6 linked regions of the Homo sapiens genome follow. The protein of the gene in region 3 purifies or fractionates together with the protein of the main gene of each other region. This does not show direct contact. Each region holds a gene or a part of one and is shown on either strand. Other genes may lie near its edges. The genes, in order: HEATR5B, AP1AR, AP1S3, SYNRG, AFTPH and KIF13A.

Evidence for each region.
Region 1: the proteins of AP1S3 (region 3) and HEATR5B purify together in Homo sapiens (affinity purification with mass spectrometry; one large-scale study listed by BioGRID and IntAct). This does not show direct contact.
Region 2: the proteins of AP1S3 (region 3) and AP1AR purify together in Homo sapiens (affinity purification with mass spectrometry; one large-scale study listed by BioGRID and IntAct). This does not show direct contact.
Region 4: the proteins of AP1S3 (region 3) and SYNRG purify together in Homo sapiens (affinity purification with mass spectrometry; one large-scale study listed by BioGRID and IntAct). This does not show direct contact.
Region 5: the proteins of AP1S3 (region 3) and AFTPH purify together in Homo sapiens (affinity purification with mass spectrometry; one large-scale study listed by BioGRID and IntAct). This does not show direct contact.
Region 6: the proteins of AP1S3 (region 3) and KIF13A purify together in Homo sapiens (affinity purification with mass spectrometry; one large-scale study listed by BioGRID and IntAct). This does not show direct contact.

The regions. Positions count from the first base shown.
Region 1 is NC_000002.12:36,979,732-36,984,175, forward strand, and holds the end of HEATR5B (HEAT repeat-containing protein 5B), read right to left. Parts: intron 2,064-4,444; coding exon 1,759-2,063; 3' UTR 1,164-1,758; downstream 1-1,163.
Region 2 is NC_000004.12:112,254,937-112,259,902, forward strand, and holds part of AP1AR (AP-1 complex-associated regulatory protein), read left to right. Parts: intron 1-2,835; coding exon 2,836-2,861; intron 2,862-3,396; exon of another isoform or gene 3,397-3,523; coding exon of another isoform or gene 3,524-3,543; intron 3,544-4,966. UniProt on the Homo sapiens protein: Necessary for adaptor protein complex 1 (AP-1)-dependent transport between the trans-Golgi network and endosomes. Regulates the membrane association of AP1G1/gamma1-adaptin, one of the subunits of the AP-1 adaptor complex.
Region 3 is NC_000002.12:223,826,776-223,831,741, forward strand, and holds part of AP1S3 (AP-1 complex subunit sigma-3), read right to left. Parts: intron 1-4,966. UniProt on the Homo sapiens protein: Subunit of clathrin-associated adaptor protein complex 1 that plays a role in protein sorting in the late-Golgi/trans-Golgi network (TGN) and/or endosomes.
Region 4 is NC_000017.11:37,535,754-37,540,719, forward strand, and holds part of SYNRG (synergin gamma), read right to left. Parts: intron 4,791-4,966; coding exon 4,627-4,790; intron 3,493-4,626; coding exon 3,439-3,492; intron 2,668-3,438; coding exon 2,571-2,667; intron 375-2,570; coding exon 226-374; intron 1-225. UniProt on the Homo sapiens protein: Plays a role in endocytosis and/or membrane trafficking at the trans-Golgi network (TGN). May act by linking the adapter protein complex AP-1 to other proteins. Component of clathrin-coated vesicles.
Region 5 is NC_000002.12:64,564,418-64,569,383, reverse strand, and holds part of AFTPH (aftiphilin), read right to left. Parts: intron 3,535-4,966; exon of another isoform or gene 3,394-3,534; intron 1,823-3,393; coding exon 1,671-1,822; intron 293-1,670; coding exon 166-292; intron 1-165. UniProt on the Homo sapiens protein: Component of clathrin-coated vesicles.
Region 6 is NC_000006.12:17,833,361-17,838,326, forward strand, and holds part of KIF13A (kinesin-like protein KIF13A), read right to left. Parts: intron 4,224-4,966; coding exon 4,112-4,223; intron 3,731-4,111; coding exon 3,518-3,730; intron 712-3,517; coding exon 601-711; intron 1-600. UniProt on the Homo sapiens protein: Plus end-directed microtubule-dependent motor protein involved in intracellular transport and regulating various processes such as mannose-6-phosphate receptor (M6PR) transport to the plasma membrane, endosomal sorting during melanosome biogenesis and cytokinesis.

The sequences.
Region 1 (4,444 bases), about 190 Mb from region 3:
GAGCCACCATGCCCAAACTGAATTGAGTTGTATGGTATGTGAACTGGATCTCCATGAAGTTGTTAGCGAAAACAAAAACAAAAACCAAGGAGAATAATTGTGGCAATGCAAACCTGAAATGAAAAAACAACCAGCGCCAAGTGTGGTGGCTCACGCCTGTAATCCCAGCACTTTGGCAGGCTGAGGTGGGAGGATCATTCAAGCCTGGGTGATTGAGGCTGCAGTGAGCCGTGGTCATGTGCCACTGCACTCCAGCCTGGGCAAAAGTGAGACCCTGCTTCAAAACAAAACAAAACAAAACAAAAATGAAAAGAAGCTGGGCATGGTGGCTCACGCCTGTAATCCCAGCACTTTGGGAGACAGAGGCAGGCAGATCACCTGAGGTCAGGAGTTCGAGACCAGCCTGACCAACATGAAGCCCCGTCTCTACTAAAAATACAAATTAGCTGGGTGTGGTGGCGGGTGCCTGTAATGTCAGCTATTCAGGAGGCTGAGGCAGGAGAATTGCTTGAACCCAGGAGGCGGAGGTTGCAGTGAGCCAAGACCGCGCGACTGCACTCTAGCCTGGGCGCGACAGAGAGAGACTCCATCTAAAAAAAAAAGAAAAGAAAAAAGAAAAGAAAAAAACACCCAAAAGTCAGTGAGAAAACAGGCAAGACAAAGTACCTATCTCAGGTATCTAAAAGGCTGAGTGGAGTTCAAGTGTAGTGAGCTATGATTGCACTCCAGTCTGGGCAACAGTGCAAGACTCTGTCTCTAAAAGAAAAAGGAAAAGAAAGGAAAAGAGAAAAGAAGATAAATGTTCAGAAAGTGACTTGCTTTTGATAATACTTGTTCAGTCTGTTACACTGTGCGGTAAAACTTGGTGTTTAAAATTTGCTAAATGCTGTGGCAAACATTCATTGTGTGAATTATCTATTTCGTACGGTAAAATGCCCACTACATGAAAGAATGGCATCACTGTAATTATGCCTAATTCATTTTTGTATCCCCTGCAGCACTTAGCTTGATGCCTTATACACAGTAGGCATTCAATAAATATTTGATGAAGGAAACTAACCATCATAGCCAGAACTTGAGGTTCTGTAATTACAAAACATAACTGAAGCCAAATTTTAGCCATTAAAAAAAGCAGAATATTATATTACATTTAAACATTTTAGTGAACCTTTAAATGAGAATTTTAATTGTTACCAACTAAAATATACATAGCATAATTTAGTAATTTGATATGAAAGCTAAAAGATCCATCAGAAAGATAAGGACATTTTGGGAAATGCTTAGAAAATGCTGTGATTTTATTCATAGTATATACACCACAAAACAGACACTTTCCATTATTTTGATTACTTCAAAATTTAAAATCTGCTTGTTTTTCAATTGATTTTTTTCATGACAGATGCTGAGTTCTGACCCATTTTTTTCCCCTGACAGTATCAATAGGCTGCCCGACTACATGATACAATTGTTTTTAGCATTTAAATTTAAGACTATGGCTCAGTGTTTGAAAAATAAATAAGTTAACAAAAGAGAAACATTATTAGGAGGAAAATGAAAACATATTCACCACATGATAAAAAAAATCACTCCTTAAAAATCAATAAGTGGTGTGAGCATTATTTCACTTAACCTACTTGGAAGCACTATAATACCAATATACAAATAAAACAGAACCCATAGGTAGCCTGGAATGATACAGTGGCCATCACTAATTAGGGGCTAGTTGACAACATAAATACAAATAAATGAAATTACAAATTAAAAAAAACTTGTTTTTAGCTTAATTGTTGGTGCAGAATGTATGGCGGGGGCTGGTTGTCTGGCAGCCGCTTTAGCTTTGCTCGCTTGGCTTGCTCGAACGGCAGTTTCTAGACGCACTTTCAACTCAGGAGCAGCCCCCATTACTGTCTTGAAAGCATGTGGATACAGAGGTCCAATATGCATTAAATTCTGGAGTGCAAACTCATGAAGATCTTTGGAAGCTGAACTTGCTGAGGCAAAAGAATTTTCATCCAGCAGGTAAGATATCAAAGTGGGAACTAAAAGAGCAAGTAGCTGGACTCCTGTAAATAATAAAGTATGAAAAAAGATCACAAACATAAGGATTATAATAAACTTTAAAAACTAGGCAATTGCCATGGAAGACTGAACATAATAAAATATAAGTACACATGCACAGCCTACTTTAGACCTCAATAACTCGTAATTAATATTAAATATTTACTAAATGTACAAGCTGGAAACCAGGTTTGTTAATATTGTATATTTTACATTTATATTAATTTGCTTTACTTAAAAAAAAAAAAGGGCCAAAGGTTAAAAAGTAATAAAACACTTTACAATTGCCACCTGGTAGAATGTATCTTGAGAGTAAGATTATAAAATTTTTACGGGCATTCTAGAATCAGGAGATTGGAGTGAGGAACAGAAACCTGAAAAGCATCTATTTACCATTATTTAACTAACACTAGTTGTTTCTTTCCTCTTTAAGTAGAAATACAATACAACTTTTTTCCTATTTCATCATCCCCCAAAACTCACAGTGAGGGGAAATTCCTCAAAACTAAGGGAATACATAAGCTTAGGGTTAAAAAAACAAGAACCTATGTCCGACTGATATAAATTCCAAGTCCTTAAAAAAGTATTTATTTGGAGGCTTCATCTCCTTTTGTTAGTCTTTTGTCTTTACTTATATTAACAACTCCATCCTGGGATATAAGTTTCATTAAAGGTGATTTTTTTTAACAATTAACCTTTATATGTAATTGTGTGTGTGTATAACATCTCATAATCACATTGAGAATTACGCGTTCTCCCCCTTAATTACTGTTAATTTTTGTAGAATGACAACTGACGCAATTGTAAGGCAGGAGGAAGCATCTGGTAGAGAATGTGTGACACTCACTGATGTCAGCAAGGACAGTGATAATAATCAGTGAAGCCTTTCCAGAATCCCAGTTCCACCCTGGACCTTACTCCCTATTTTCTTTCCCTGCTGTATTTTTTTCTTCACAGCTCCTATCAATTCCTGCATCTAACTATAGATGTTATATCTACATCTAAAATTGATATATCCATCATCACTATATAAAATTGCACAAAGATACATGTCTACATATAACAGACACAGATACACACACACACACACACACACACACACACACACACACACACACACACGTATAGGGGACGAGAAGTGTTTATTGTCTGTGTTTTCCTACCAGAAATGTAAGCTCCATGAGATCAGGGACCTTTGCCTGTTTTATTTCACGAGAAATTCTCAATGCCTAGAACACTACCTGGTACACAGCCATCCAGTAACTATGCTTTGAATGAATAAACATACATACTCTTTCTCTTGGCAACTACCCAGAAGTTTCCAATTAAATGGATTTGTTTCCATATTAAGTTTTCAGAAAAGAGGTAAAAAGCTTATTTTTAAAGTCCCAGGTAAATCCTCCAATCTTCTAGATTTAGTTCAATTTCCCTCATGTACAATGTTAATAGTATTATAGGGGTAGGCGCGGTGGGCTCATGCCTGTAATCCTAGCACTTTGGGAGGCCAAGGTGGGCGGATCCCCTGGTCAGGAGTTTGAGACCAGCCTAACCAACATGGAGAAACCCTATCTCTACTAAAAATACAAAAAAAAAAAAAAAATTAGCCGGGCATGGTGGCGCATGCCTGTAATCCCAGCTACTAGGGAGACTGAGGCAGGAGAATCGCTTGAATCTGGAAGGCGGAGGTTGTGGTGAGCCGAGATCGTGCCATTGCACTCCAGCCTGGGCAACAAGAGCGAAACTCTGTCTCAAAAAACAAAACAAAACAAAACAAAAAAACCCAAAAATATTAGCTGGGTGTGGTGGCACATGCCTGTAATCCCAGCTACTCTGGAGGCTGAGGCAGGAGAATCGCTTGAACCTGGGAGGCAGAGGTCTCAGCGAGCAGAGATCGTGCCATTGCACTCCAGCATGGGCGACAAAGCGAGACTCCCTTTCAAAAAAAAAAGTTAATAGTATTATAAAAGCTGGCTTTCATAATAAAAATAAAGTAGAGAATTATAAAATATATATAAAATTATCTTCAGTATATTGGCTTGCTAAATTGGAAGAGGTTTCAATAGTAGGTTTTCAACAGTAGGTTGAAAATTAAGGTTTTGGTTTTAACAATTTTAAAATATAACTGGAGGCCGGACGCAGTGGCTCATGCCTGTAATCTCAGCACTTTGGGAGGCTGAGGCGGGTGGATCACCTGAGGCCAGGAGTTCGAGACCAGCCTGGCCAACATGGTGAAACCCTATCTCTACTAAAAATATAACAAATTAGCTGGACGTGGTGGCAGGCGCCTGTAATCCCAGCTACTCCTGAGGCTGAGGCAGGAGAATCACTTGAACTCGGGAGGCGGAGGTTGCAGTGAGCCAAGATCAGGCCACTGCACTCCAGCCTG
Region 2 (4,966 bases), on a different chromosome or scaffold from region 3:
TAATTTATATTAGAAAATAATTCCGAATTTTTTTTTTTTCTTGAGACGGAGTCTCGCTCTGTCTCCCAGGCTGGAGTGCAGTGGCGGGATCTCGGCTCACTGCAAGCTCCGCCTCCCGGGTCACGCCATTCTCCTGCCTCAGCCTCCCAAGTAGCTGGGACTACAGGCGCCCGCCACTACGCCCGGCTAATTTTTTGTATTTTTAGTAGAGACGGGGTTTCACCATGTTAGCCAGGATGGTCTCGATCTCCTGACCTCGTGATCCGCCAGCCTCGGCCTCCCAAAGTGCTGGGATTTCAGGTGTGAGCCACCGCGCCCAGCCAATTCCGAATTTTTTTACTATCTAAGATACACTATATACACACACAGGATTTAAAGCGTTATACAGAAACCCAAGGAACTTCAGAAAGTTGTATTTCTAATATTTCTAACCTCTTGCCATTAAGTAGGTAAAATACCTAACAATCCAGAGTAGACCCATTGCTTTTTGTTGTTGTTGCCGTTGTTTTCTTTTTAAGAGACAAGATCTCGCTATGTTGCCCAGGCTGGACTTAAACTCCTCGGCTTGAGCAGTCCTCCTGCCTCAGCTGAGTAGCTGGGACCATCGGTGTGTACCACTTCACCCAGCTTTGGAGTAGGCCTATTCTTTATAGTTTTCATAGATTCTGATGTCAGATTTTCTACATGTTTATTCTACAGTTTCTGACTTTAGCCATCATCTCTTTTATCTTTTCTTTATGTTGATTTTCTACATTTCATCTCATACAACTCAGCAAGTTTTAAGATGCTTCTCAAATACAGAAGTGTTAAAAATGAGAAGGGAGTGCATTTTAGAATCAGCAAATTGTGTATATTTCAACATTTGATCTTAGTCAAAAGGCTAAGAAGCATTTCTTATGCATTCGTATAGTTAGAACTTTAGTTTGTATGCTAATTTGCAACTTCACTAAATTAATTGTGTACGTTTCTGCAAATTACTTAACCTCCCTGGGTCTACTTTCTACATCTTTAAAATTGGTTCGACTAGAAGAACACTGAAAGTTGACACTGTCGTTTTTGTTTTCTAGGGAAAGAAGAAAATGTATTAATCTTTTCCTTTAAAAATGTATTCTTTAGTCCAGCCTTTCTCAGAGTATGTATAGAATACTAGTCTCAGAGTGTAAATTAGCATGTAAAAGATTGAGATAAACTATTGTTAAACTGAATTATTTAAACTTGTTCAACTCAGCTCTTCTTAAATTAACGTGGGTAAAAATCCTTTTTTAAAATAATAATACATATTTTTCATCTGATAGGACACATTTTGGAAACTATTTTAGCCGTTTGTTCTCCCAGTAAAATATCATTCCATTTCATAGAACTTACTTCTTTCCCTTCGCAGAGGTCACTTTTGTCTTCATGTCTTTCTCTTAAAAAGTTTAAGCAAACACTGGACATGATATTTTTAAAGCATCTGACAAGTGTTAAAAGTAAGCCTTCTTTCAGCCTCCAGTAGAATTCATCCCAGCATCGTAACACTTTTCAAGAGAACTCGTGATTCCATGGATTTTCCTAAGATGCTTTTTGTTTGGTTGGCTGAGGATTTTTTAATTTTTGTTTTTGCTAACCCCTCTTCTCCTCTCTAATTTACTTCATATTTTGTGTTTGGTTTAGTTGAATGTCATCCTGTTTTGTAGTGCTACTTTCTAAACTAATGTGGACCATTTGGAATTTTATTCCTGCTATTATATTTTAACTTTCAGTTATGAATAGTTTAAATGTGTAAGAAATAGGCATAAACCTGAATAAATCCTGAAAATAGTTATGCTTTGCTTTGGAGGAAAAAACTACAGATAATTTCATAACCTTGTGAAAGAAAACAAAAAGTTGATTCTCATTATTGTATTTAAGTTGCTGTAAATGCTAAATTAGTGAATGCTGAAGCATTACTGCAGGGGAAATACAAGGTTAGGTTCCTGCAAGCCTCTGATCACAATATGTTCATCAACCAATCAGTATATAGCCTCATTCAATGTGCGTTTCTGTGTAAGACACTGTATTAAACACATATTATTGATTCATTAACTTTGAACTCACAGCCAATAGCACAAACTCATGCTTGTATGAAGCTTACCTAACACACATATTTTCCCCATAACACACATCATAGCTTTCTTGGACTTTAGGAACACTGGAATACTTAGAGGTCATTTTAAACAGAAATCACCAGCAAAAAAGCACAAAAATGCAAACAGTGTGGCATTAAATAGACTGTAAAAAGGATACTTGTTTATAGCATGAGAGCTGAAACAAGAAAGCGGAGTGTCTGTCGCCCTGTTCTACCTCATCTGGGAATGTGCATTGCTGAGCAACTCAAAATTTTTACTGCTCCATGCCTGTCCTTGAATGACCAAGAGAGCTCAAATATTGATTTTGTGGTTACAAGTAAATTTTCCAAGTAGGCAAATTTGCAAATATAGAAACTGCAAAAAAATGAGGATCAACTGTTAATATAAATGAGAACATAGAGAATATGTTGTCTCATACCATACTGACCACAGTTCATTTGGTATGTAACAAATATTTGTTAAAAAAAATTAAGAAATGTCCAGCAAATGGTTTTATGTAATTAAGCTAGATAGTAAACTAAATTTTGCTTTGGAGAAGTAGCAAAATTTTAAAGCTTTTTGTTTCAAATATTTTTAATAGTGAAATATATTTAATAGTGAAATGTATTTACTCTGATAAAAAATGGGTAAGTTGAAAGTATTTAGATTAAATAAAAATTGTATTGGTTACTTTAAATAGAATTTAGCTAATGAATTTGTTTTAATTGTTTAATTAATTTTTGTACAGGGGGAGAGCCCAGGAAGCAGTCATAGGTAAGGCTTTGTTAAAAAAAAAAAACAAAACTTCTATGCAAACTGTAAGAAAACTCTCTTAAGAAGTCAGGCTTTATCATTTGCTTGCTTTGAGACATTAAACAGTTTACATTTCAGAACTTTCAGATTTTTCTTTTTATAAGATTGAGACAAATATCATATATCTCAAAAGACTGTTTTGAATATTAAAGAATTTAATGTAAGTGCCCAGATGCTTTCCTGTTGTACCTGTTATATGTTTTTTAGTTTTCTTAAAACCATTTAATACTGATAAGTACGTTTCTTTTAAATTTTTTAACTTTATTGCCCCTTTCTTTCCTTATGCATTCTAAAACTTATTCTACTAAATTTTTTCACATCTTTTAATAGTAACTAAAACCTTATGCTATAATTATTTAAGCAGCTTTTAAATATTTTATTAAAATTGCATGTGTTACTTGAAGTATCTTTAAGTCAAAAGAGCATTCTTAATTTCAAGAGAATAGTTTTCATATACAATGTTATATTATGAACAAATAATCCTTACTTTTTTTAGTTTAGCAAACATTTATTAAGCAACTGTCGTGTGCCAAGCACCGTGCTAGACACTGGGATTTTAAAAATCAGACATAGTCTCTCCATTAGAAGAAAGAACATCCTGGTCTGGGAGATAGATTCTCGAGATGACTAATTTCAATATGAGGTAGGGAAAGCAATTAAATAGTGATTATAGAACATTCTAGGGAACCTTAGAGAAGAGGCTGTTTGCCCAAAACAAAATCCAAGAAGACATTTTTAAGGGGATAACACCTGGTGTTGATTGTTGAAAGGTTGGTTAATGCTAACTATCCAGGCAGAGCAGGAGGACATTAGAAATTTCATAAGCAAAGTGAGAGAATTGATTGTAAAGGGGCACAAGGAAAGTATGTGAGGTGATGGAAGTGTTATGTATCTTGCTTCCAGTGGAAGTTACATGAGTGTATACAATTATCAAAACAACTTTATGAACTGAACACTTAAAATCTATATTTCATTTTATTTAAGTTATACTTCAAAGAAAAAATTTTAAAGCCCTAATATATAACTAGGGCTAGCAGAAGTTAGAGCTGAAGGGACAGAAGTAGGAGATAATACCTATAAATGGCTAGTTAACCATGATAGTTACCAAGATCACCTAACTGAGGTGGGGGTTTGGGGAGAGGTGGAGCATGGTGAGAGAGCAAGGATCTGAGGATTGACTAGGCGGACACTAGAAGAGGATTCTGAAGATGACCAAGAAGTAGTAGGCAAAAAGAAGAACCAGGAGAGCTTGGGAAGCCGAGGGAGGGGAGACAGACAGACAGATGGGAATGGTTAACACTGTCCCATGAAACTGAGGTAGTAAGATAAGGACTTAAAATTGTGTATTGTATTTGGCAACATAGAAGCCATTGATTACCTTTGCTAGAGTTATTGGAGTTATGGGAGCAGAGGTAGACTGCAGCGAGTTGACAAGTGAATGGGAGGTAAGGACATGAAGGCAAGAGAAGAACAGTAGTTAAGAACAAGAGCTACACTACCTGGGGTTCAGATTCTGGCTTTGCCACATACTATATGACTTACTTAGCCATACTCTTAATCTGTCTTCGTTTCACTTCCCTCATATGTATAATCCTTATATCTACCTTAGAGGGTTGTTGTGAGGATTACAATTTGCTAATATATGTGAAGCATTGAGAAGAGAGCCAGGCACATAGTAAGTGCTAGGTATGCTGACTATTGATATTATACATTTAATTTCAGGACTTGGCTGAAAAAAAGAGGGAGCAGTAGCTTGAGATAGATACAGGTCAAATGGAGGTTTTTTCCTTAGTTTCTTCTTTCTTCCTTCCTTCCTTCACATGGAAGAGAGGTGCAAACAGACAAAAGGAATAGGTTAAAGGTAAAAGAGAGGTACTAATTGATAGAACAAGGTCCCAGAGAATTGCCTGGAGTGGGGCAGGAGAGATGGGCTCAATGGTGAGTGAGTCAAGAGTGTAAATGTAGTAGGTGACTCTGAACAAGTTAAGAACATTCCTCTTTAGAGGATGGTGAGGAGAATAGGAAGGATATATGTAAGTAAGTGGGGGTTGCCACAAAGTTGGGGC
Region 3 (4,966 bases):
CCCAAGTAGCTGGGAATACAGGCGAGCACCACCACGCCCAGCTAATTTTGAGATGCTTTTTTTGAACTTTGCTCAAGAGGCTATGCTTACTATGCTAAACTCAACACCCTGCATGGTAATGACCACTTAATGGTTATTAAGAACTTTCATTTTCTTCCTACTCAACACTCATTAAAAATCTATCCCCAGGGCCTTTTATACCTTGACAAAGATGACTTCAGTTACAAGCAAAATTTTGTAAGAGGCGGGCAATGGTATATCCATCATACCCTTTCAAAGTTTACCACTAACAAACTTCAAGCATTCATCTGAGAGACCAATCTGCCTTATTGTATATTCAAGTCTTGCCCTTCCCCCATAGTTTTTGCAAAGATGGTTGATGTAGACTAGATTATCGTGAGACGGAATGGACTTTGAAAGGCGGGACTCTCTTATGTAGTGGACTTAGAACTGAAGACATGACTTCTTAGTAATGAAACTGAAGGTAAGTACTTGTTTATACAACAAAATTAAAAAGTTCTATACAGACTTCTGAATCATACTTTAAAAAAAAATGTGATATTACTGTAACCCTTACCTTCCCCTACCTCCCCAATATCTGCAGTCCATAATTTTGTTTTGTTTTGAGATAGAGTCTCACTTTGTCGCCCAGGTTGGAGTGCAGTGGCACGATCTCAGTTCACTGCAACCTCCACCTCCTAGGTTCAAGCTATTCTCCTGCCTCAACCTCCGAAGTAACTGGGATTACAGGGGTTTGCCACCACACCCAGCTACATTTTTTTTTATTTTCAGTAGAAACGGGGCTTTACCATGTTGGCCTGGCTGGTCTCGAACTCCTGATCTCAAGTGATCTACCCACCTCACCCTCCCAAAGTGCTGAGATTATAGGCATGAGCCACTATGCCCGGCCGATTTTGTTTATTTCATCAGTTTAAATAAATTTCTCAGAGGAAAAAAAAAAATCTAAAGTATTTTCATTAGCTTTTCCCATTTCTCTTAGAAATAGCCCTGGCTAGGCTGGGCACTGTAATCCCATCACTTTGGGAGGCCAAGGCGGGCTGATCACCTGAGGTCAGGAGTTCAGGACCAGCCTGGCCAACATGGTGAAATCACGTCCTACTTAAAATACAAAAATTAGCTGGGTGTGGTAGCAGGTGCCTATAATCTCAGCTACTCAGGAGGCTGAGGCAGGAGAATTGCTTGAACCCAGGAGGTAGAGGTTGCAGTGAGCCAAGATCGTGTCATTGCACTCCAGCCTGGGGTACAAGAGCAAGACTTCATCTAAAAAAAAAAAAAAAAAAAAAAAAAAAAAAAAAAAGAAGAAGAAGAAAAGAAAAAGAAATAGCCCTGGCTAGCATTTATGAAATATGTTCCAGGTGCCAGGCCCTGTGCTGATTGAACCAAGCAGTCTTATTCCACGCTCAGGTGATCTCATGAAATGGGATGAACCAAGTATCTAAGATCAAAGCGCTCACACAGGGCCCTGGGGTCATTCCCCTCACCACATTCTCCTCTCTCTCTTTTTTTTTTTTTTTTTTTGAGACAGACTCTCACTCTGTTGCCCAGGCTGGAGTGCAGTGGCACAATCTCGGCTCACTGCAACCTCTGCCTCCCAGGCTCAAGCGATTCTCTTGCCTCAGCCTCCCGAGTAACCGGGGTTATAGGCGTGCACCACCATGCCCAGCTAATTTTTTGTCAAGGCCAACACTGCCCCCTACCCCATGTGCCACATCTGGGTCCCCACATGGCCCACCTGCAACTTCCCAGGAAATAAAACTGAGATGACTCAAGAATGCTTAATATCAAATTCTTCTCCTGTGTGATTGATCCAAAATATTTACAGAGTTGAGAGAACTCCTCACCAAGAATGTGAGCTCCGTGCAAGCAGGTGGCTTCTGGCTTGTTCAACACACTCTCTGAGGCCCAGACCCATGGCTGGTTTCTGTGGACACAGGGTCATTACATGGAGAAGCCCTGCATTCAGAAGGACCCAAAACTTGGTTTAATGCTCTGCTGTCACTATCTTGAAATTCCTGGTAAACTTTGAAAAAGGGATCCTACATTTTATTTTTATTTTATTTTTTTGAGACTGAGTCTCACTCTGTCACCCAGGCTGGAGTGCAGTGGCGCGATCTCGGCTCACTGCAACCTCCACCCTCCGGGTTCAAGCGATTCTCAGCCTCCCGACTAGCTGGGATTACAGGCGCCTGCCACTGCACCCAGCTAGTTTTTGTATTTTTAGTACAGATGGGGCTTCACCATCTTGGCCAAGCTGGTCTTGAACTCCTGACGTGGTGATCCACCAGCCTTGGCCTCCCAAAGTGCTGGGATTACAGGCATGAGCCACTGCACCCAGCCAGGACCCTGCATTTTCATTTTGCACTGGGCACTGCAAATTAGGTAGCCAGTCCTGCCTGTCATGGGGCAGGCATCCAAATTATTTGTCCAATATACCTATGATGAGTTAGTGGAAGCTGCCCTAGAAAATGGGTCAATAAGCCATGACTTACAGGCCAAATCTGGCCTTCTGCCTGTTGTTGTAAATAAAGTTTTATTAAAACACAGCTCCAGCCAGGCACAGTGGCTCATGTCTATAATCCCAACACTTTGGGAGACCAAGGCGGGAGGATCACCTGAGGTCAGGAGTTCAAGACTAGCCTGGCCAACGTGGCAAAACCCTATCTCTACTAAAAATACAAAAATTAGCTTGGGAGGCCAAGGCGGGGGAGATCACTTGAGGTCGGGAGTTCGAGACCAGTCTGACCAACATGGAGAAACCTTGTCTCTCAGGAGGCTGAGGCAGGAGAATCACTTGAACCCAGGAAGCAGAGGTTGTGATAAGCCAAGATCACACCATTGCACTCCAGCCTGGGCAACAAGAATGAAACTCCATCTCAAAAAAAAGTTAAAAATTAGCTGGGTAAGGTGGTGGGCACCTGTAATCCCAGCTACTTGGGAGACTGAGGCAGGAGTATCACTTGAACCCAGGAGGCAGAGGTTGCAGTGAGCTGAGATCACACCACTGTGCTCCAGCCTGGGCAACAGAGTGAGACTCCATCTCAAAAAAAAACAAAAAAAAAACAAAAAAACACAGCTCCATCCATTTGTGTCTTGTCCGTGGCACTTTCACTCTACAACAGAAGAGTTGAGGAATACTGAAAGACTGTAGGGTCCACAAAGCCTAAAATATTTACTATCTGGCCTTTTACGGAGAAAGTTCACTGTCCCCTGCTTTAGTAAATTGTCTCTCCAAATTTTCTATCCAAATAACTGTAACAGCAGGAAAGGCAGGTGGCCTCATGAGACCAGGAGGGTAGCCTAAGCTGCAAGCCATAAACAATATATGTCTTAGGGTTTGTATGTATGAATTTTGCATCCGGGAGCCAAATATATTAGTGTGTTAATACAAAAATATTTTCTCGGCTGGGCGCTGTGGATCACACCTATAATCCTAGCACTTTGGGAGGCCGAGGCAGGCAGATCACTTGAGGTCAGGAGTTCAAGACCAGCCTGGCCAACATAGTGAAACCCTATCTCTACCAAAAATACAAAAATTAGCCGGGCGTGTTGGCATGCACCTGTAGTCCCAGCTACTCAGGAGACTGAGGCAGGAGAATTGCTTGAACCTGGGAGGCAGAGGTTGCAGTGAGCCGAGATTACGCCACTGCACTCCAGCCTGGGTGACAGAGTGAGACTCTCTCTCAAAAAAAAAAAAAAAAAAATTATCATTCTGAACAATACTCCAGGGATGAGTCAAATTTATCCCTTGACAACCCCTGTCTACAAGGATGAGTACGCAGAAGGTATGGGCACCCCAGTTTGCAAACCATGCCTTCATTCCTCATCTTTGATATACCCAGTGTGGAAGGAAGTCTCCTGTAGCATTTCAGTGTCCACTGAGCTTCAACCCACACCAATCATTTCTTACCAGCCCAGAAAATCCTGTTAGAGAAGATCCAACAAGGACATTAAATACAGAATCTCTTGTGCACTTATTCTTAACTGACTGTACTAGGTCCATGCCCCATCGCACTGAAAGACTAAAGTTTCAGAAGCTACTGAGAGCCAGGAATTTCAGAGCCCAGAGATGCCTGTAGGAAAGTTTTTAGAAGAGGGATGTTGGCAGAGGCCAGTTTCCTCATGATTGTCGATAACATTCTATTTCTAACTTGAATGATTTTCAGTATCCCCTTTTCATTGTTAAGATTTTTAATTTACCTTATTGCTAGCAGCGATACAAGAAATACATTTTTTTTTCTTTTTAATAGAGACTGAGTCTCACTGGTCTCAAACTCCTGGGCTCAAGCAATCCTCCCTCCTCAGCCTCCCAAAGTGCTGGCATGAGCCTCCAACCCTGGCCCCTTTCTCTTTTGGAGATAGGATCTCACTCTGTCACCAAGGCTGGAGTGCAGTGGCACAATCATGGCTCACTGCAGCCTTGACTTCCTGGGCTCAGGTGATCCTCTCATCTCAGCCTCTCAAATAGCTGGGACTACATGGGTGCACTACCACGCCCAGCTAATACTTTCTGTATTTTTTCTAGAGATGGGGTTTCGCCATGTTGCCTGGGCTGGTCTCGAACTTCCAGACTCAAGCAATCCACACACCTTGGCCTCCCAAAGTGTTAAGATTACAGGCGTGAGCCACCGTGCCCGGTCAAGAAATACATTTCCTTAGTCAGGGTGCTGGCTGGATAGTTTCATATGCCACTGAGAGAATTTAGGAGCATTTGCCTCTGACATTTGTGTACATTCTTTCATGTCATAGATTATGGGGGAGCTTCAAATGGTTTAAAGGGAGTTTTCCTGGATACTTCAGGTTAAACAGAGAAAGTATCGGGGAAAACTAGGTATACCAGAAAGGGAGACTCTGAGAGAGAAAAAGACAGGCCCCAGGGAAGAAATGAACCACAGAACCACAGTGAAGTTTCAGGTCTCTGGGAGAAACACTGGCTATCGTAACAACA
Region 4 (4,966 bases), on a different chromosome or scaffold from region 3:
TTCCTGTACTGGTTTTTTCCTTAGGTTCACTGGGCCTTAGAGAGATCAGAAGCCCACCTGGTACTGTTCAACTGACCACACACCTGTGATCTCCCTCCTTTAATATAACATGCTCCAGTTGGCACCTCCAGCCTCTAATAAGTACCATCATAGGAATATACACTCTGCTTTACAACTTAGGTTTCTGGAAAGGAAAGCAACTGCTGAGTTGTCTCATGGGCTTACTGTGAGTGTGGCGAGTGACATGAAGCCGATTAGGTTATTCCATACTTTATCGATGTCCTTCAGCAACTGCTGGAGTTTCTCACTGCACACTGCAGTGGCTTTTATCCCCAGCTCCACACGCTTGGTTACCCTGTACACTTCAACAACACCTGACGGGATGAGAGAGCAGAGAGAGAGTGTTGGCAGTGGAGACACAGAGGACCCAGACAGGGGAGCATTATTGCTTGCTGATATCTGTGAGAAACAATGGGTGTATCTGGACAGAGGTGTACTTACTATTCTTTGGGACCAATCCACTTCTCAATGCTGCTGTATAGCTTACTGGTAAGAGCATAGAAGCTGCACTGCTTGGGTTCAAACCCCAGCTATGCCTCTTACTGGCTACATGACCTTAGGCAAGTCACATAATCTCTCTGTACCTCAGTTTCCTCATCTGTGAAGTTGGGATGGTAACAGTAGCTCCTCCAAGGATGGTTGAGAGGATTAAATAGGGTAATATGGTAAAAGGCTTACAACAGTGCTTGGAGAATGGCAGGCACTATGCAAGTTATTAGCTTTTGTTTTTTGGGAGGTTTATTTATGAGTCCATCTGTTTGAATCTGGGAAATCCCAATAAACTAGCTGAAAATGGGGATAGTAAAAATTTAAAAGAATCTAAATGTTAATAGCATCACAAAGTAATGAAGAAACATCTCACCCCTCTGAATCTGAAGGTCTTACAAACACTTTGACTTCACTTATCTTTAAACACATAACAGGATGCAGAACAGTTCTTTTCCTATGGTCTCTAAATTGTGGTTGAACTCTTGAAGCAAGGATGAGAGGTGCTAAGTACCTCCACATTCTAAGGACAGCCACCAGACACATCCCTAACCCCTGCAATGTAACAGTCACCAAAGACATGACCCCGATCTCTCTAAGTGAACACTGGAGGAATTCCAGGGGATCTTCAGAGCGGGGCCTCAGCAGCCCTGTGTCAGCACTACGGCTTTTCTTCTTCCTTTCCCAAGAGAGGGGCAGAAATTACTGCCCACCCTAAGCCAAGTGAGGGGGCTTCTAAGAGAATCTTCCATAGATACAAGGATACTAGGAGAAAAGACAGGTGCCCCATTTCCTGGTGGACATCTGCTTATGCAGAACTGTGCCTGTTTGAGCAGGAAAAGAAGACCCCAAGTGAGGTGGCAGGAGTAAGGCAGAGACTACATCCCTTCACTCTCCACTCATCCAGCAAATATTTTTGAGTGCCAACTACGTGCAAGACACTAGATTAGGTGTTGGGGACACACCAGTGAACAAAACAGACCAAAATCCTTGCCTTCTTGGAGGTTCATTCTAGTGAAGGGAGACAGAGAGTAAAAACAACAAGTAGCTAGGTGCAGTGGCTCACGCCTGTGATCCCAGCACTTCGGGAGGCCAAGGTGGGTGGGTCGCTTGAGCTCAGGAGTTCGAGACCAGCCTGGGCAACATGGCGGAAACCTGTCTCTACAAAAACTACAAAAATTAGCTGGGTGCATGGTGGTGCACACCTGTGGTTCCAGCTACTTGGGAGGCTGAGGTGGGATGATTGCTTGCGCCTGGGAGGTGGACGCTGCAGTGAGTCATGACTACATCACTACACTCCAACCTGGGTGACAGAGTGTGAACCTGTCTTAAAAAAGAAAAGAAAAGAAAAGAATAATAAGTAACATATGTAAGAAATTAAAGGTAATAGGGCTAAGGAGAAAATCCAGCAGAGAATGGGATGGGAAGTACCGGGGTAGGGAGAGACGATACTCTTTGGAGAGATGGATGCTAGGAAAGATTTCACTCAGAAGCTGACATTTGAGTAAAGATTTGAAAAAGATTAGGGTCCAGCATGTGTGGCTCTGGCCACGGGCCAAGCCTGAGCTTGGGGAAGGGAGGAACACCGAAGTGGACAGAGACTACACTTTCCCGTTGGACTGACACATCAAATTGCTGCAGATGGCCAGGAGGTTAAGGACTCTGTGGTGTCATTAAGCGGTCGAGAGAAAGAATATAGAGTATGGTAAGGAATTGATGGGAGACAAGATGATTTTACTTTAGTGCATCGGTAGTTCAGATTCTTTGATAAACCAGTAACACAGATATAATTTTACATTTTTGCTATTACGTATATAACAAGGATGAGGAAACTTAGCCATAGAGACTTTTTAATTAAGTCCAATAGTTTACTGCCTGTAGCTTGAGTGTCTTACCCACAAATACAGATGCTTCTTACTGAAGTCATATGTAACTTGAGAGATCTAGCTTAAAATAATTAAAGGGAAAACTGAAAATAATGCAAAGGGCCATCATTTTCAATAGTAAAATATGAAAGAACATACCTAATAAATATTCCATGCCTTGAGCTGACTGAATTACTTCTGTGCAAACAGAACTACTACTGATTCCATTTAAGGTATCATTTGCCTTCTTAATGACCTACAAGAAATGAAATCACATCACCTTACATAACTGAGAAAAGTCATTGCAAATCAATTTACTATTAGTAGAAAACCCAACCGAAAAGCCAGGAGGTGTCAAAAAATCTCATTTTATCCTTGAAGAAACAATCCTCCATTTCTCTGGAAGAGAAAATATGTTTTTTTCCTTTTGTTTTGTTTTGCTTTGTTTTGAGACGGAGTCTCGCTCTGTAGCACAGGTTGGAGTGCAGTGGCAAGATCTCGGCTCACTGAACCCCTGACTCCCGGGTTCAAGTGATTCTCCTGCCTCAGTTTCCTGAGTAGCTGAGATTACAGGCACGTGCCACCACGCCTGGCTAATTTTTGCATTTTTAGTAGAGACAGGGTTTCACCATGTTGGTCAGGCTGGTCTCAAACTCCTGACCTCGTGATCCGCCCGCCTTGGCCTCCCAAAGTGCTGGGATTATAGGTGTTGAGCCACCGCACCCAGCCAAGACAGGTTCTTTAGCTTAAATATTATTTTGATTTAGTCAGAGTTAATGAAATCACTTTGTTATTTCTTAAACACAATGACAGATGAGGGGATGACTGACACATGAGCCGGTCTGCTATTGTAAGTGTGAAAGAAGCCTCACCTTAGATGCATGACTTCCACAGAGTTACTCTTTGCCCAGGGACATCCAAGTAAGGCTCTCCTGAAGTTTGCCTCTGTCAATTCAAATGAACCAAGAAGGCAAAAAGGCACAAAAGAGCACTCACATATGTGTGAACGCGTAAGTGACATACTCACATTCAGGGCACTCCCCAGGCATCTCTGCCATTCATATGCATATCTCTCATTTTCCTGTGAATTTGTTAAAAAGAACTGGGTTAAACACACAAACCTGGAATCTTCTATTGATGACTCTGTCAATTCAAAGTGCTTGGAGGACTTTCCTTTTTATTACGATCACTCTAGTTCAAGCAGTTTATGTTTTTTTTGTTTTTGTTTTTGTTTTGAGATAGGGTCTTGCTCTGTTGCCCAGGCTGAAGTGCAGTGGCATGATTTCTGCTCACTGCACTGGACGCAAGCAATCCTCCCACCTCAGCCTCCAGAGCAGCTGGGACTACAGGCACGCACCACCACATGAGGCTAATTTTTGTATTTTTGGTAGAGGTGGGGTTTCACCATGTTGCTCAGGCTTGTCTTGAACTCCTGAGCTCGAGTGATCTGCCCGACTTGGCCTTCCAAAGTGCTGAGATTACAGGCATGAGCCACCATGCCCAGCCGCAGTTTATCTTTTTGAACTCACTAATAACTATGTTAAATTACTAATAAATGTAACTTCTGAGCACAGGACCTGTGAGTCTAAGGGACATGCTTTCCAGCAGCTTCCCCCTGTGAGTGTTGCCTCATTTGTTCCATCAGTAACAGTGTAAGCCTTTCTTCGGAGGCACTCAGCATGTAGCTATCTGGTACAGAAACTGCTATTAAGCCACTGGCTTTCCACGCCCCAGTTATAACGCTGTGTGGCTGTGTGTGAGGACGTGGCCCATGTGCACATGTAACAAGGAGTAGGGAAAGGTGGGAAATTAAGTGTGTTGACCATAGGAGGAACATAGCGTGGCACTAAGATGCAGCAGACAGAAATAAAAAATTCAGAATATTTTCCCTGTCTCCTCTATTTTGAGGTTTCATGAAGACAATAAAGTCTAAGTGCTCAAGAAGAATTATACAAACACTGCCATCCTTGTGAAGTCCCATGAATAGTTTTGGTTTTAGGGTCACTGATTAGTTTCAGTGGGTGCCACACCTGGGAAATGTTTTCACCCAGGGCTAATGTTACCCTTGCCTCACTTTAATTACATAGTTTATGTCTGGTGCTTTGTGTCTTTCTGCCCCTCATTTTCCCCATGTGAAAGCTGACAGCATTCTTTCTTGGGGCCCTGTGTGCTTGCTGGTCTGTTACCCACCCCTTGTAGAAAGCTCTCCTCTCACCTCCACCTCTCCCGTCAGGTCTTTGTACTTGTCTCGGATGACGGGCAGGGCGGGCTTCTCATTCAGAGTATTGGAACGGTCTCTGAAAGGCTGCTCCAAAGCTGGAGAAGGAGAAGAACGGCTTATTTCTTTATCACCAAGGCTCAAACTCCTCTTGTGTGATCCTGGGAGAAGGGGATAATACAGTCAAAGGTTTTGGCTACTCACCTTAGTTCAGGCAGAGGCTCTTCCTCGCTACCACAACCCTCTTCTTTTTTTTTTTTTTTTTTTTTTGAGACAGATTCTTGCTCTGTCGCTCAGACTGGAGTACGGTGGTGTGATCTCGGCTCAGTGCAACCTC
Region 5 (4,966 bases), about 160 Mb from region 3:
GGTAGACTGATGTTTAAAAGTCAGCACATTCAATATAAGTGAACATTTAAACCAAATATTTATTTTCTGAGGAACTAGCTTACCACAGCTTAAACAGAAGTATGACAGAATTTTAAAACATCCACAGGTTGATTAAAAGATTTTTCAAGGTACTAACAAACTCACAATGTTTCGGGTGTCTATTCCCAAGGAGGACAAAAGCTTCTTGTTGCTATGGGAGCCGCCCCACTGGTATCTCAAGCCATGTGCATCATGGATATCCTGTAGCTCAGTCCACACATCTAGCAATTCCCTGCAAAGGCCATGATGAAGCCATCAACAACAGGTTACTCAATAACTTTCACCATGAGTTCTACTTATAATATGGCTGTGACATAACACACATTCCATTTACTCTTGGGTCCAACGTAAGTGTATAACTATTTGAATGAAATCAAGAGCCAATACTTATAGTCACTAGAAAAATAACTAAGGCTGGGTGCGGTGGCTCACGCCTGTAATCCCAGCAATTTGGGAGGCCGAGGCAGGCGGATCACCTGAGGTCAGCAGTTCTAGACCAGCCTGGCCAACATGGTGAAACCCCATCTCTACTAAAAAATACAAAAAATTAGCCAGGCATGGTGCTGGGTGCCTGTAATCCCAGCTACTCGGGAGGCTGAGGCAGGAGAACTGCTTGAACCCAGGAGGCAGAGGTTGCAGTGAGCTGAGATCACTCCAGCCTGGGCAACAGAGCGAGACTGTCTCAAAGAAAAAAAGGTATTTCACTGTGAAATTTCAGAATATCAGCAACAAACAGATCTTAAACTATAAATTGAATGTGAGAGTAGAGTAAAAATTTGCCTCCCATCTACCTTTTTTCTCAGAAGGCTATTGGAGGATATGCTCCACCAAAATGGGATCTAAGTGAAGGGAAGTCCCGAGGCAATGTATGTGTAAGCCCAGACTGAAACCATTCTAGATGGGAGCAGAATGATAAGGTGTTGGATCACAAGTGTATGAACAAGCTCTTAAAGGGTAGGGAAACATTAATGAAAAAGAGAAGTCCAGGAAGAAGTTGTACTATAAAGAAAACAGTGGCTTGAGTCAACAATACATACGTGATTATAATAATGAAAATGCCAAATAAGAAATTAACCAAAAACTGATATATGGGGAAGATGAGGGGAGGAGAATAGCAGAGGTAAAATCTAAATTTTCAGTTTTCATTCTAAGAAGTCAAAAAATAATATATAACATCAACTGATTATTGATTTAGAAATATAAAAAGAAATAGCTCAAAAGTAAAAAGGCAGGGAGTTTAGGTTTTGACACAATGTTTTTGAGCCTTAATTTTTTTTTTTTTGGAGATAGAGCCTTGTTCTGTCACTGAGGCTGGAGTGCAGTGATCTTGGCTCACTGCAACCTCCGTCTTCTGGGTTCCAGCGATTCTTGTGCCTCAACCTCAATCCCAAGTAGCTGGGATTACAGGCATGTGCCACCATACCCTGCTAATTTTCTGTATTTTTAGTAGAGACAGGGTTTCACCATGTTGGCTAGGCTGGTCTCAAACTCCTGACCTCAGGTGATCCACTGCGCCTGGCCTGAACCTTAATGTTTTAAGATAAACTTATAAATTAGAACTACTAAAAATAACAAAAACACATGCTATCTAAAAACAGTCTCCTACTTACCCACTTTCAGGTAAGGCCTCTCTCGTTTTTATTGGCAAAGTGCTTGTTTCCAGCAAGTGCTTCAGGGAAGTAACTTCCTCTTCAGCATCAGGGACAAGTATGGAAGGAAAACATGCTTCGAAAATTCGCTCCAGGCGGTTTAATAAAGCTGTCTGCATCAAAACACCCCCCAAAAGTTTATTTTCATTTAATTTTGATAATATCATAGTTATAGCATTAAAATGCAAACACACGCACACCCTGTCCACTACTGTGAGAGAGGAAGAGAACCATCAGAAAACACTGAGTGAAAAGAACACAACTACTCATGAAACAATCACTCTAAATGATTAATTTAAATGATGATGATGAGCTACGTAGCTGGCAATTAAAAGCAACATGCCAAGCAATATACCTGCTACTTTACATGCATTATCTTAATCTATTACAAAATTCTACAAAAAAGAAATTACCCAATTGTACAGTGAGAAAGCAATCTCAATGTCTGAATAATCTGCCCAAAGCAAAACCAAAAAAACCCAGAGAGCATTTATATTCTTTCCACCACACTGGAATGTCTCTTACTACCACTCATCTACTCTAGATTTAGGAACAATAAGATTGGATGCTTGTGGGAAGTATTATGCTATTATAGCTAAACAATCTTTTTTTGAACATAAACATGAATTTTGATAGCCTTTTGGAAATATCTTTGCTGCTAACAGTACAAACCAAAGTAGCAAAGAATGTCTCAATTTTTACTGATAAAAAATTCGAAAGCTCATTCATCATTTTGGTGATATGCATTATCTTTTAGAAATTCCATTTCTCTACTCGTCTTTGTTGCATGTATATTTTTGAATAGAATACTACACTACCTCTCTCCCAAGTAAAGCCTGCATATTCCCCAGAGTATTTCCACCAAGAACAAACAGATACATTTCTTGGCTTTTTTTTTTTAAAGTATTTTTATTAACTAAAACTTGCTGGATTTAGATCAACTTAGTTTTGGTACCACTAGGTTTACTATACATGTGCAACCTACAATAACATTCATTCCTATTTTCCTAACTATTTCAGATACATGTAATATATTTTCCAACTTAGCCCAATTTACCATTTAAACATCAACTGGGAATACAAATTGTTATTAAGTTAAAGCCTGTTGTAAGATTAAGTTTACTATTGAATTGACACAGACTGTAAAAGCAAAATGCCACATCATGGTGGTACTTCCTGCCAAGTAACAAAAACAAGTTGATGCTTGATTTCTGTTTTGTAGTGTAGTGAGCACCCAGGAAAATTAAAAAAAAAAATTTCATAACATTTTCTGAACCCAAATCTCTTTTGGAAGCTGTATCAGAGCAAAAACTTAACACTGCATAATTAGTCTTAGGGTACTCTTTTGTAATTCTACAAAAGTTATTCTCACATCATAATTATATTCATGTGTGTGATATTGGAAAAGGTTCTCACTATCAATTATGAACCCTAAGTAAAGGGTAGCCTCAAGATCCCAAGGCCTGTGAAACTTGAGTGCATCAAGGGGCCCTTGCTCTCACTTGCCTCAACAGAGAGAACGGACAGACATTATTTTCAAAGGGATCAGATAACCACCTAATTGGATACATGATTGGCTCCTCCTGGGCAGGGAAGGTAAACAAAAAACTAACATGGCCAAATTTTATTTCTCTGTAAATTAAATCTTTCTTGTATCCTCTTTGTTATCTTTTTAATGGGATAGGAAAAAAATGTTTACCACAGGAAGAAAGAAATGACCCTAAAACACATCCAACCACTTGGGCAATGTTACACATAACTGCCAGGTGTCAAGACACCAGTAAAATTCTCAAATGAGTGGAATGAAGCTGAGGCAAAAAAGGATGTAAGTTGAATGGAAATTTCTAAAGAAAGTTTCATATATGTTTAGGATCAGATATTACATTAGATTGCTTCAAATCTTACGTTGAATAAGATAGAGCAGGAGATTAGCAATCTTTTCTATAGAGAGCCAGACAGTAAATATGTTAGGCCTTGTAGGCCATATGTAAAGGAATAAGCATGGGTATGTTCCAGTGAAACTTATTTACAAAAACAGGCAGTAGATTTGTCCTGTGGGTCATGGTTTGCCCCTTGAGGTAGAGCAGTAAATAATAAATAACCAGAATCCACTAACAGCATTGCCCAACACAGGGAGGGAAACTCCTCAACAATTCAGCAACTAATAGAATGAACAAAGGCTTTTTTTTTTTTTTTTTTTGAGATAGAGTCTCGCTCTGTCACCCAGGTTGGAGTTTAGTGGTGCAATCTCGGCTCACTGCAAGCTCTGCCTCCCAGGTTCACGTCATTCTCCTGCCTCAGCCTCCCGAGTAGCTGGGACTACAGGTGCCCACCACCGCGCCCAGCTAATTTTTTGTATTTTTAGTAGACGGTGTTTCACCATGTTAGCCAGGATGGTCTCCATCTCCTGACCTCGTGATCCACCCACCTCGGTCTCCCAAAGTGCTGGGGTTACAGGTGTGAGCCACTGCGCCCAGCCCAAATATTTTTATTAAATTTACTCTGACATTTTATTTTTAAAAGTGTATCAATTTCCAGCCAGGTGCAGTGTCTCACGCCTGTAATCCCAGCACTTTGGGAAGCCGAGGCGGGTGGATTGCTTGAGCTCAGGAGTTTGAAACCAGCCTGGCCAACATGGTGAAACCCCGTCTCTACTAAAAATACAAAAATTAGCAGGGCATGGTGGCGCACGCCTGTAGTCCCAGCTACTCAGGAGGTTGAGGCATGAGAATCACTTGAACCAGGAGAGGTGGAGGTGGCAGTGAGCTGAGATCATGCCACTGTAGTCCAGCCTGGGTGACAGAGCAAGACTTGGTCTTAAAAAAAAAAAAAAAGTGTATCAATTTCCATAAGACCAGTTTGGTGGTAAGGGCATCCTGTAATGAGTTTCTCACCACTATCTTGTTTTGGGTAATAAATAAGGCCAAATTTAACTTACTACTAGTTAATTCCAGTAAGTAAATGACTGGTATAATAACACTTCAATAGAGGGCTATAGATCCAGGGGCCAAGACTCCAGTTTCTGCATTTATTTATTTTATTTTTTATTTTTTATTTTTTTGAGATGGAGTCTTACTCTGTCACCGAGGCTGGAGTGCAGTGGTGCGATCTCGGCTCACTGCAACCTTGGCCTCTCAGGTTCAAGCGATTCTGCTGCCTTAGCCTCCCAAGTAACTGGGATTATAGGCGTCTACCACCATTTCTGCCCAGTTTCTGCATTTATAATCTGGAGATATCAGGGTCTATCTACCTCACGA
Region 6 (4,966 bases), on a different chromosome or scaffold from region 3:
AGCACATGCCTGTGGTCCCAGCTACTTGGGGGGACTGAGGGAGGAGAATCACTTGAGCCCAGGATGTTGAGGCTGCAAGAGAGCTGTGATTGAGCTGCTGTACTCCAGCCTGGGTGACAGAGGGAGACCTTGTCTTCAAAAAAAAAAAAAAAAAAAAAAGTGATCTTTGCAATCTCTGGTTCAGCAGAAAAGGGCCCTTAAAAGACTTTCTGAGGCTGGGTGCAGTGGCTCATGCCTGTAATCCCAGCACTTTGGGAGGCTGCGGCTGGCAGATCACCTGAGGTCAGGAGTTTGAGACCAGCCTGGCCAACATGGTGAAACCCCATCTCTACTAAAAATATAAAAATTAGCCAGGCATGGTAGTAGGCACCTGTAATCCCAGCTACTCGGGAGGCTACGGCATGCGAACTGCTTGAGCCCGGGAGGTGGAGGTTGCAGTGAGTCGAGATCACGCCACTGCACCCCAGCCTGGGCGACAGAGTGAGACTCCGTCTCAAAAAAAAAAAAAAAAAAGACTTTCTGAAGATGACAGCAAACTACACAGAAAAGACAATAAGTGAAAAAGAATCCCAATATTTTAGGGCTAAATTATCAAGCTACCTGTGCTATCTCTTCTGTTTTTCTCAGCTTCTCTTCCCAAGTCACTGTTAGTTCTTTTATCAGCTTTTCAGACTCTTCGAGCTTCTCCTTCAGTTCAGGGGCCTTCATGGCCTTTAAAATGAAATCAGAGATATCTGATGTTCAAAATTTTTCCACCATCATATACAAGACAATCAGTTACTGTCCCTCTTAAGCAGTTATCAATAGTCTGTTGGAAAAAATTAAGTTATATGCTGTTAGGGTGGGTTTTTAACCTTTATTAATCAAACGAATGTAAGAGAACATGGCTGTTCCCTGAAAAAGAAATACCAGTGTCCTGAATGAAAATGAAACAAATCATTAGTCATTTTATCCATTATACTTAAATTTCACATTTAAAGCCCTAAAAGATGCTAACGTTCAACTTTGAAATAGATAAGCAGGACAAAAGGTTACTTAAGCAGACTTCTTTTTCAATAAGACGGAGGTTAACACTCATCATCAATAAATGAATTCCAGTTAAATTAATCTGCTAGAAAAGGTAAAGACTTCTCATGTATTTTAAATTTTGAATCTGGGCCTTTAGACTACCTTTCTCCACTGATGGTCATGCATTTTGTTATTTATCATTATCATTCACCCAGAAGCAGCACAGCTGGCTAAAAAGGCAGTGGTTTCCCTTCTAGTTTGTTCAGGGAGAGTAACTAAGAGGTTTCAATACAGATACTTGCAGCTTAACAAAATTTTGAGGGGAGAGGCCTTTACTTGTCAATAATATGCTTTGACACCTTAAAGTAACATGAGCCTCTACAAAGTTAAAACTCTATGAACAAGAAAGATGGCAGAGCTTGGACAAGAAGCTGGGATGTGATGATCTGGAAGCTAGCTGAGTATGCCTGAGGCTCATGGTATTAACAGAGCCTGACAGTGGCATTTAGTGCTGAGTACAGTGGGACATATATGAAAATTATAGGCCAGGCCAATGGCTCCTGCCTGTAACCCCAACAGTTTGGGAGGCTGAGGTGGGTGAATCACTTGAGACCAGCCTGGCTAACATGGCGAAACCCTGTCTCTACTAAAAATACAAAAAAAATTCACTGGGTATAATGGCGCATGCCTGTCTGTAATCCTAGCTACTTGGGAGGCTGAGGCAAAAGAATCACTTGAACCCAGGAGACAGAGGTTGCAGTGAGCCAAGATGGTGCCACTGCACTCCAGCCCGGGCAACAGAGAGACTCTGTCCACCCGCCCCCGCCAAAAAAAAAAAAAAAAAAAAAAAAAAAAAAAAAAAAAAAAAAAAGAAACAGAAAAAGAAAATTCTAGGTGGACCTATGTGGCTGGCTCTTCTTCTGTTTCCTTCAGCCAGGTATTGCTTGAGCCATCTCGCCCAGATTATGTGGTCACAGTAAAAATGCAAATAAGTAGATAATCCACCTATAAACACATTGCAGAACCATTATACTTTCCTCCTAGCATCATGACTATTTTCAAGGTTTATCAGCATTTTTATTTTTCTGGTGTTTTGCTACCCTTCTTACAATCTATCTGAAAATTATACTTTATGCACTGAATGATTATAAATTATAATAAAAATCAGCAACATTTATTGAGAACTTACTATGTGCAAGGTATTGTGGTAAGTGCTTTCTAGTATCAATGTTAGGCTAGGGGTTGGGGATAAAAAAATCAATAAAACACAGCATCTTGTACTTTAAGAGCCACAGCCTGGAAGAAGAGAAAGATATATAAACAAACAATTACAATGTAATGCCAAGATCACCAATTAATAGAGTATTCAGACTCTTGGCTTCACCTTTTTGTTTTTTCAGTCTTCTATTGATTACTTTTTGATAAAATATGCTGATGGATAGAAGTATTAACATAGTGCCTGGCATGTAAATGCTCCATAAATAATGGCCATTAACTGTGTTTTTCTTTCTTTCTTTTTTTCTTACAACTTAGTACTCTCCCAACTACAGTGGGGTCAGAAGAGAGTGGTGAAGGAATGTGAACTTAGAAGTGTCAGATACACTCCCAAGTCCTGGCATGTGGAACCCTGTGACTTAAACTAAGGCACTTGGCCTCCAAAGCTGTCCTCTTAAATATTTCAAATAAGACAGTGCCTCACCCAATAATTTGCAAAAAGCAACACCTATTTAGAAGAGTATATCATTATTAAAGTTTCAGTAAAGCCAAAGAAAGAAGATAACAATGCAAAAAGATTTTGTTTCTTGTCAGGGCCTGATATAAATGGAAAAGAAAAAGATTTCTGAATTATTCCTAATGTTTAATTATCTTTGATCACGCCGTTTCCACAGCTTAACAAGGAGATAACACCTAACTAAATTCTCTGAAAATTGCAAGGCCCTGTGGAAATAATAGTTTATAATGTTAATATAAACAACATACTTTCCCACTGAAAGTTCAAAGGCCAACTGATTTAGGGAAGCAAATGATCAGGTAGTAGCAGGAATTATCTCTTATTTGTTTGTTTCCATGACTATAAGTTCCTAGGACAGAGTATGGTATTACTCATGTTGGTCCTCACAATGCTTAGCATTTGGCAGATGCCAATAAACACTGAAGTGCTGAACCACATTGAGATGATGTATTAGTCAGTTCTCACATTGCTATAAAGAAATACCTGAGATTGGGTAATTTATAAAGAAAAGGGGGTTTAATTGGCTCATGGTTCCACAGGCTGTATGAGAACTCACTATCACGAGAACAGCAAGGGGGAAGTTCGCCCCCATGATCCAATCACCTCCTACCAGGCCACTCCTCCAACACTGGTGATTACAATTCAACATGAGATTTGGGTAGAGACATAAATCGAAACCATATCAGATGACCTACAATTGCAAATGAGCACACCCTTGCCAGTCAAATCCCGCAAGCCAGGGAACTTTACCAGCAGGGAGTACCAGGCTGCTTTTACCTCTGCCTGAGAGAGCTGCTCTCTCAGTTTCTCGACTTCCTCCCGCAGTTCTCGGATCACTTTTGCGTTGGGGTCCTCATTCACAACAGCATGGTTCACAATCCTTTTGGCTCGGTCTGCATATCTTAATGTGGAGAGGGTCTCTTCATAGTTGTCTGCGGCTGGGCTGATTGTGGCTATCATAGAGGTTTGGCTGTTGCCCCCCAAGTTGTCCTGCCAAGTATTTCAAACAGCATCTTAGGAAGCCCATTCCATGGACAACACATATGATAAAAGCACTAAATGTGTTAGGTATGACATTATTCTCTATGAAGGAAACATTATGTGGAAATGGACTTGCATTTCACAAATAACGTCATGACAAGATGAAATGTGTCCTCTCTATATTCAAGCAATGAATAAGGCCTGTCAAACAGCATTCAAATGGAATAAAAAGGAGTAGAAAATAGTTTTCATTCTGTGTTCCTAGGAATTAGAATAACTGTCATCAGGAGAGTTCTTTAGGTATTTGGTTAGCTTTGTACACACCTTTACTCTGTCACATCTGGAATAGCCAATTTTTAGTTGGAAAAGAACACTAGAGCAATGGATTACCTTAAGCAGCCAAGTGAGGACTGAATCTCGATAAGGCACAAATTTGCTTTTACCCTTGCCAGCTGCCTGGTCAGCCAGTGATGATATAACCAACCCCAAGGTTGTAAGCGATCTGTCAAGAAAAAATGAAAAATTAGTTTTATGGAATGTTTATTTGGTTTAAGTATAAAATATGCAGAACAATAAAGCTCCACAGTTAATACACGTTGGTGGCTCACGCCCGTAATCCCAGCACTTTGGGAGGCCAAGGTGGATGAATCACTTGAGGCCAGGGGTTTGAGACCACCCTGGCCAACATGGTGAAACTCTGTCTCTACTAAAAATACAAAAAATTAGCTGGGCGTGGTGGCAGGTGCCTGTAATCCCAGCTACTTGGGAGGCTGAAGCAGGAGAATCTCTGGAACCCGGGAGTTAGAGGTTGCAGTGAGCCGAGACTGTGCCACTGCACTGCAGCCTGGGCGACAGAGTGAGACTCTTTCAAAAAAACAAAAACAAAGAAACCCCAAAAAACCAAAATATCATAAAAAGAAAGTGCTTTGTAAATGGTTTAAAAAGTTAAATGCAGCTGGGAGTGGTGGCTCACACCTGTAATCCCAGCACTTTGGGAGGCTGAGGCAGGTGGATCATGAGGTCAGGGGTCAGGAGATCAAGACCATCCTGGCCAACATGGTGAAACCCCATCTCTACTAAAAATACAAAAATTGCCAGGCGTGGCGGCGTGTGCCTATAGTCCCAGCTACTCGGGAGGCTGAGGCAGGAAAATTGCTTGAACCCGGGAGGCGGAGGCTGCAGTGAGCCAAGATCGCGCCACTGTACTCCAGCCTGGGCGACAGAGCAAGACTCCATCTCAAAAAA